2 separate regions of the Homo sapiens genome follow, and region 2 is linked to region 1. Evidence: fine-mapped expression QTL. A gene starts in region 1. The other region holds a variant in brackets. All regions are shown on one strand. Distances are between the middles of the regions.

The links. PIP is the estimated chance that this variant, and not a neighbour inherited with it, causes the effect.
Region 2: its variant is the best candidate, but not a certain one, in a credible set for the expression of NDFIP2 in testis (GTEx, PIP 0.55).

What each region holds. Positions count from the first base shown.
Region 1 is chr13:79,479,793-79,482,708 of GRCh38, forward strand. It overlaps NDFIP2 (Nedd4 family interacting protein 2), which reads left to right and starts at 1,363. Exons shown (of 8, transcript NM_019080.3): 1 at 1,363-1,732. The coding sequence starts at 1,412. It overlaps NDFIP2-AS1 (NDFIP2 antisense RNA 1), which reads right to left and starts at 1,439. Exons shown (of 3, transcript NR_046685.1): 1 at 1,360-1,439; 2 at 44-138.
Region 2 is chr13:79,611,316-79,614,231 of GRCh38, forward strand. No RefSeq gene overlaps it. Among named protein-coding and RNA genes, the nearest start is that of LINC01068, 46 kb to the left of the region's middle. The variant C/T (reference allele first, on the strand shown) is at 1,365.

The sequences.
Region 1 (2,916 bases):
TTTTTATTCTATCTTGCTATTTTAACCAGTTGATTAGGCTCACCCAGTGGCAGTCTTCATTTCAAGGATCTCCTCTGGACATTCATGAAGGAAATAAATGGGGCTCCAGATCCCTTTCCTTCCCTTCAGGGCGCTCCACTGTAAGATCATTTAGGGAAAATGTGGTGTTATGTTAAAAACATAGCTGGGCCACATCAAGCAGCATCATAGTTTTTAGGGTATAGAACGTTGGTCTTCAGGTTAAAAGGTACTTTTCGCTGCTCTGTCATACTCTTCTACTTGCTAGAGAAATATGCTTTATGCCGTGTCATGTGTGGTTAACCAGACAGTGAGATACTACTAACAGTGCTCCCAAGTGATTCCTTGCTGTTAAATCAATTGGAATTATTGAGTATTACCACAAAATAATCCTATCTGATTTCATTACTTTCTTCTAACGTCCTTCCAGTAACCTAGAACTCTAGAGACCTCTTTCTTTGAGAGTTGTCTGGAGAGTCCGTTGGATTTTTAAATCTCTTATTACCAAAAAGTGGAAAAAAGAGTTTAAAAAGTAACCAAAGAGCTAGTGCCTGTAGTCTCAGCTACTCCAGAGGCTGAGGCAGGTGGATAGCTTGGGCCGAGGAGTTCGAGGCTACAGTGAGCCATGACTGCGCCTGCTAACAGCCACTGCACTCCAGTCTGGGCAATATAGTGAGACCCCATCTCTAAAAAAACAACAAACAAAAACAAAAATTACCCCACAGAAGAATTTCAGGGCAGTGGAAATACTCTGTAGGATACTATAATGATGGATACCTGCCATTACACATTTGTTCTAACTCGAGGAGTATACAACAACCTGAGTGAACCCTGAGGTAACTATGGACTTTGAGTGATGATGAGGTGTCAATGCAGGTTCATCAGTCGTAACACATGTACCACTCTGAGGGGGGATGTTGATAATGGTGGGGGGTTATGCATGCGTAGGAGCCAAGTGTATATGGGATATCTCTGTAACTTCTCAATTTTTCTGTAAACTCTAACTACTCTATATTAGTCTTTAAAAAATCGCTTATCTTACGAATGATTTTGAATAAGCGTTTTGGGAATGTTCTAGAGATGAATCTCCTCCCCATGTCCTACGCTGGGTGAGGAAGTGTCGGGTACCCGGGCGACCTGTCCTCAGGTGTTCTAGGAACGCGGCCCCATCCCTTGTCAGCCTCTGTCTCTGTGTGGTGAGAAGGCGCACTGGCTCGTGCCTGCGCGAAACTCGCGCACACAGAAAAGACCAATCAAGGACGGGTCATTCCCGCCCCCCGCGCGCCTTTTGCGACCGCCCACTCGACAGGTTGACAACCTAGACAGCTCCCCCGGACTTGCCTTACTTTTCCATCTCCTCCCACCCAGCTATACCCTCCCACTGGCGGCGCGGATGGCACGCCGGCGGAGCCAGCGAGTCTGCGCGAGCGGTCCGAGCATGCTCAATAGCGCGCGCGGCGCCCCGGAGCTTCTCCGCGGAACCGCGACCAACGCGGAGGTCTCGGCGGCCGCTGCGGGAGCCACAGGAAGTGAAGAGCTTCCGCCGGGAGACCGCGGCTGCAGGAACGGAGGCGGAAGGGGCCCTGCGGCGACGACGTCGTCGACGGGGGTGGCCGTGGGAGCTGAGCACGGAGAAGACTCCCTCTCTCGGAAGCCGGATCCCGAGCCGGGCAGGATGGATCACCACCAGCCGGGGACTGGGCGCTACCAGGTGGTGAGTTCCCGGCCTCCTGTGCCTCCCGGGACTGCCTCCCGCCGCGGCGTCCCGAGAGTCCCTTTCCTCAGGTTATTCCCGGAGGAAAAGCTGTGGCTTTTTTTTGTTGTGTTTTGTTTTGTTTTTTTGGATCTTCTGGCTGGAGCTGCTTCACTCGCCTCACCTGCGCACTCCTGCCTAGGACTCCTTCGAAACCCTTCTCTCTCGCCCCAAGTCTGCTTAGCTCCTCACCCGCACCCTTAGCCCCGCTGTGAGACGCCCTCCCTCCACACACCTTACAACTTGTATCCGTTTTAATTTCTCACTTTATCATTTTCTTATTCTCTGACTCAGTCACTCCTGAGACATTCTAGTCGATTGTCTACTGGAAATGGGGCTGACTTCACATACCTGCCCGGAAGGTGATCGCCGTCATAAATGGGGTGGGTGAGTAGGTGGGTGGAGGTGTAAGTACTGCGTGGGGTGGGATGTGGATTTGGCAAAAATGTGGGTTAGGAATTGTGGAACTGTAGAGAAAGACTAGCCATAATGCTGATCTTGTCTCTCTGCTCGTTAACCTTGTCATTTTGTCCTTTTCCATTATGTTAGTATTAAAAATGACTGTATTTTTTGGTAATCCCCACTTTTTCTTTCTTTCTTTCTTTCTTTTTTTTTTTTTTTTTTTTTTTTTTGGTTAGAGGGGAAACAGAGGTAGTTTTAGTAGAACAAATTCTAATCTTGTTTGAAAAATTATTTTTCGTTAAATACAAGGTTTTCCAGCTTAACTGTGTAAACTTTGGTAACTATGTTGAAAAAAGTGAAATGTGTTCCTCTATATTTTCAGTGTCAATTTTTAAATATATTTTTCTTTGTGTATTCTGGTGGTGACGTTGGAGATTCCTGTTGTAAACCTTAGTTAAAGATGGACTGAGCAATAGTTGACTCTGCTGTTGTGCTGTTGCAGCTAGGTAGCATGTCATTCTACAAACTTTCAGCCCATTTACTGAGGGAGAGGAGAAAAACAATACATAGCACTGGTGATGCAGTTTATGGTTTATAAAATTTTACAAATTTAGGTATGTTAGTCCCAGGTTTCAACTTTCAAATCTATTTGCACATGTAAGACAGGTTATAAGCCAAGACTTTCTATTAATAAGTACATTTTGGCAAATATGAAGGAACTGTAAGATGAGATCCTAAAGTAT
Region 2 (2,916 bases), 130 kb after region 1:
TTGTATTTTTGTTTTATAGGTCCTGTGAGATTTATGCTTTAAAGAGGTTCTGTTTTGATGTGTTTCCAGGATTTGTTTCAAGATTTAGAGGTCATTTTAGTAGTTCTTGTGGTGCTGGCTTAGTAGTGGCACATCCTCTCAATATTTGTTTGTCTGAAAAAGACTGCATCTTTCCTTCATTTATGAAGTTTAGTTTCACTGGGTACAAAATTCTTGGATGATAATTGTTTTGTCTGAGGAGGCTGAAGATAGGGCCCCAATCCCTTCTAGCTTGTAGGGTTTCTGCTGAGAAATCTGCTGTTAATCTTACAGGTTTTTCTTTATAGGTTACCTGGTGTTTTTGCCTCACAGCTCTTAAGATTCTTTCCTTTGTCTTAACTTTATATAACAGATGGAAGTGTGCCTAGGCGATGATCTTTTTGTGATGAATTTCCCAGGTGTTCTTTGAGGTTCTTGTATTTGGAAGTTTTAGTTCTCTAGCAAGGCAGGGGAAGACTTCTCAATCAGTTCAAGTTGTTATAAAGTTCAATTGGAGGTTTTCTTCTCCCTGTGGCCTTTCCCCAGTGCCTCTGGAAGCCATCCTTAAGGACGCCTGTGAGGTGAGGCAGAAATGGCTTGCTAGAGGACCCAGAAGGCCCACAGGGATTTTTCCACTGCTTCCTCTACCCCTGTATTTCACTCAGCTCTCTAAATCAACTCAGCTTCAGGTAACATCAGAATCTTCTCCTGTAGTCTACACCTTCAAGTTCCCCAGTGAGAGTGTGTGTTCAGGAGTGGACAATATCCCTTTTTCACTTCCACTGTTTGAGCACTCAAAGCATTTGGGATGTCTCCTGGGTCCTGCAGGAGCAATCTGCTTCCTTCAGAGGGTCTGTGTGTTCTCTTGGCTTTCCTAATGTATTCCTGCAGTTGCTCTGCAGTCAAAGTTCATGCTGAAAGCCTCCATGTGCTGTTCTGTGCACCTGAGTGGGAGCTTAAATCTAGTCCTGCCTCCCATCTGCCATGATCTCTCCATCTAGAAGTTAGTTTTGCAGGCTGGGAAGTCCAAGATCAAGAGGTTAGCATATTTGGTTTCTAGTGAGGGCTCAGTCTCTGCTTCATAAATGGCACCTTGTAGCTATGTCCTCCCATGGGGAAAGGACCAACCCCACATTTCCCTTCCATACAGCCCTAACAGAGGTTCTTCATGAGGCCAGCCCACCTCCCCCCACCCCGTGCCCCACAGCAAACTTCTGCCTGTACATCCAAGAGTTTCCATACATCCTCTGAAATCTAGGCAGAGGTTCCAAAACCTCAATTCTTGATTTCTGTATATCTGCAGGCTCAACACCACATGGAAGCTGCCAAGGCTTGGGGCTTGTACC[C/T]TCTGAAGTCATGGCCTGAGTGGTACCTTGTCCCTTTTAGCATGGATGGAGCAGCTGGAACACAGGGCACCAACTCCCTAGGCTGTACACAGTGGTGGGCCCTGGGCCTGACCCATGAAACCAGTTTTTCCTCCTAGGCCTCCGGGCCTGTGATGGGAGGGGCTGCCATGAAGGTCTCTGATGTGCCCTGGATACATTTTCCCCATTGTTTTGGCGATTAACATTTGGCTCCTCATTATTTATGCAAATTCCTGCAGCTGGCTTGGATTTCTTCTCAGAAAATGGCTTTTTCTTTTCTATCACATCATCAGTTTGCAAATTTTTGAACTTTTATGCTCTGCTTCATTTTTAAACACAAATTCCAATTGTAAACCATATCTTTGTGAATACATAAAACTGAATGATTTTAATAGCACCCAAGTCATCTCTTGAACACTTTGCTGCTTAAAAATTTCTTTTGCCAGATGCCCTAACTCATCTCTCTCAAGTTCAAAGTTCCACACATTTCTAGGGCAGGGGCAAAATGCTAAAGGATTTTGCTAAAATGTTATGCTCTTTGCTAAAGCATAACAAGGGTCACTTTTACTCCAGTTCCCAATAAGTTCCTCTTTTCCATCTGAGACCACCTCAACCTGGACTTTATTGTTCATATCATTGTCAATATTTTGGTCAAAACTATTCAACAAGTCTCTAGGAAGTTCCAAATTTTCCTACTTTTTTTGTCTTATTCCGAGCACTTAGAACTGTTCCAACCTCTACCTGTTACCCAGTTCCAAAGTCATTTCCACAATTTTGGAACAGCAGCTCCCCACTCTTTCGATACTACTTTACTGTATTAGTCTGTTCTCATGCTGCTAACAAAGACATACCTGAGACTGGTTTATTTATAAAGGAACGAGGTTTAATGGATTCACAGTTCCACATGACTGGGGGTGGTCTCACAATCATGGTGGAAGGCAGAGGAGAAGCAGAGGCACATCTTACATGCCAGCAGGGAAGAGAGCTTATGCAGGGAAACTTCCATTTATAAATCCATCACATCTTGTGAGACTTATTTACTATCATGAGAATAGTATGAGAGAAACCACCCCCATGATTCAATTATCTCCACCTGACCCTGCCCTTGAAATATGGGGATTATTGACATTCAAGGTGAGATTTGGGTGGGGACACTGTCAGACTGTATCATTGGCTTTTTGTCTCTCTTTTTGGCTCGCCCCTTCTGGTGAAGCAAGCTGCAATGTTTTGAGATGCTCTATGGAGAGATCTGTGATCTATATCCAAGGAACTAGACGTGGCCTTTGGCCAATAGCCAGTGAATAATGAGGCCCTCACACATACAGCCCACAATGAACTGAATCCTATGAACTACCGCATGAGTGAGTTTGGAACAGGATCTCCCTAAGTTGAGCACTGAGATGACTTGCAGCCCTATGCAATTGCTTGAATGACACCCTGACACAGAGGACCCAGTTAAGCTGTCTTTGGATTTCTTATTTACAGAAACTGTGAAATAATAGATGTTGTCATTTCAAGTCACTATGTTTTGGGG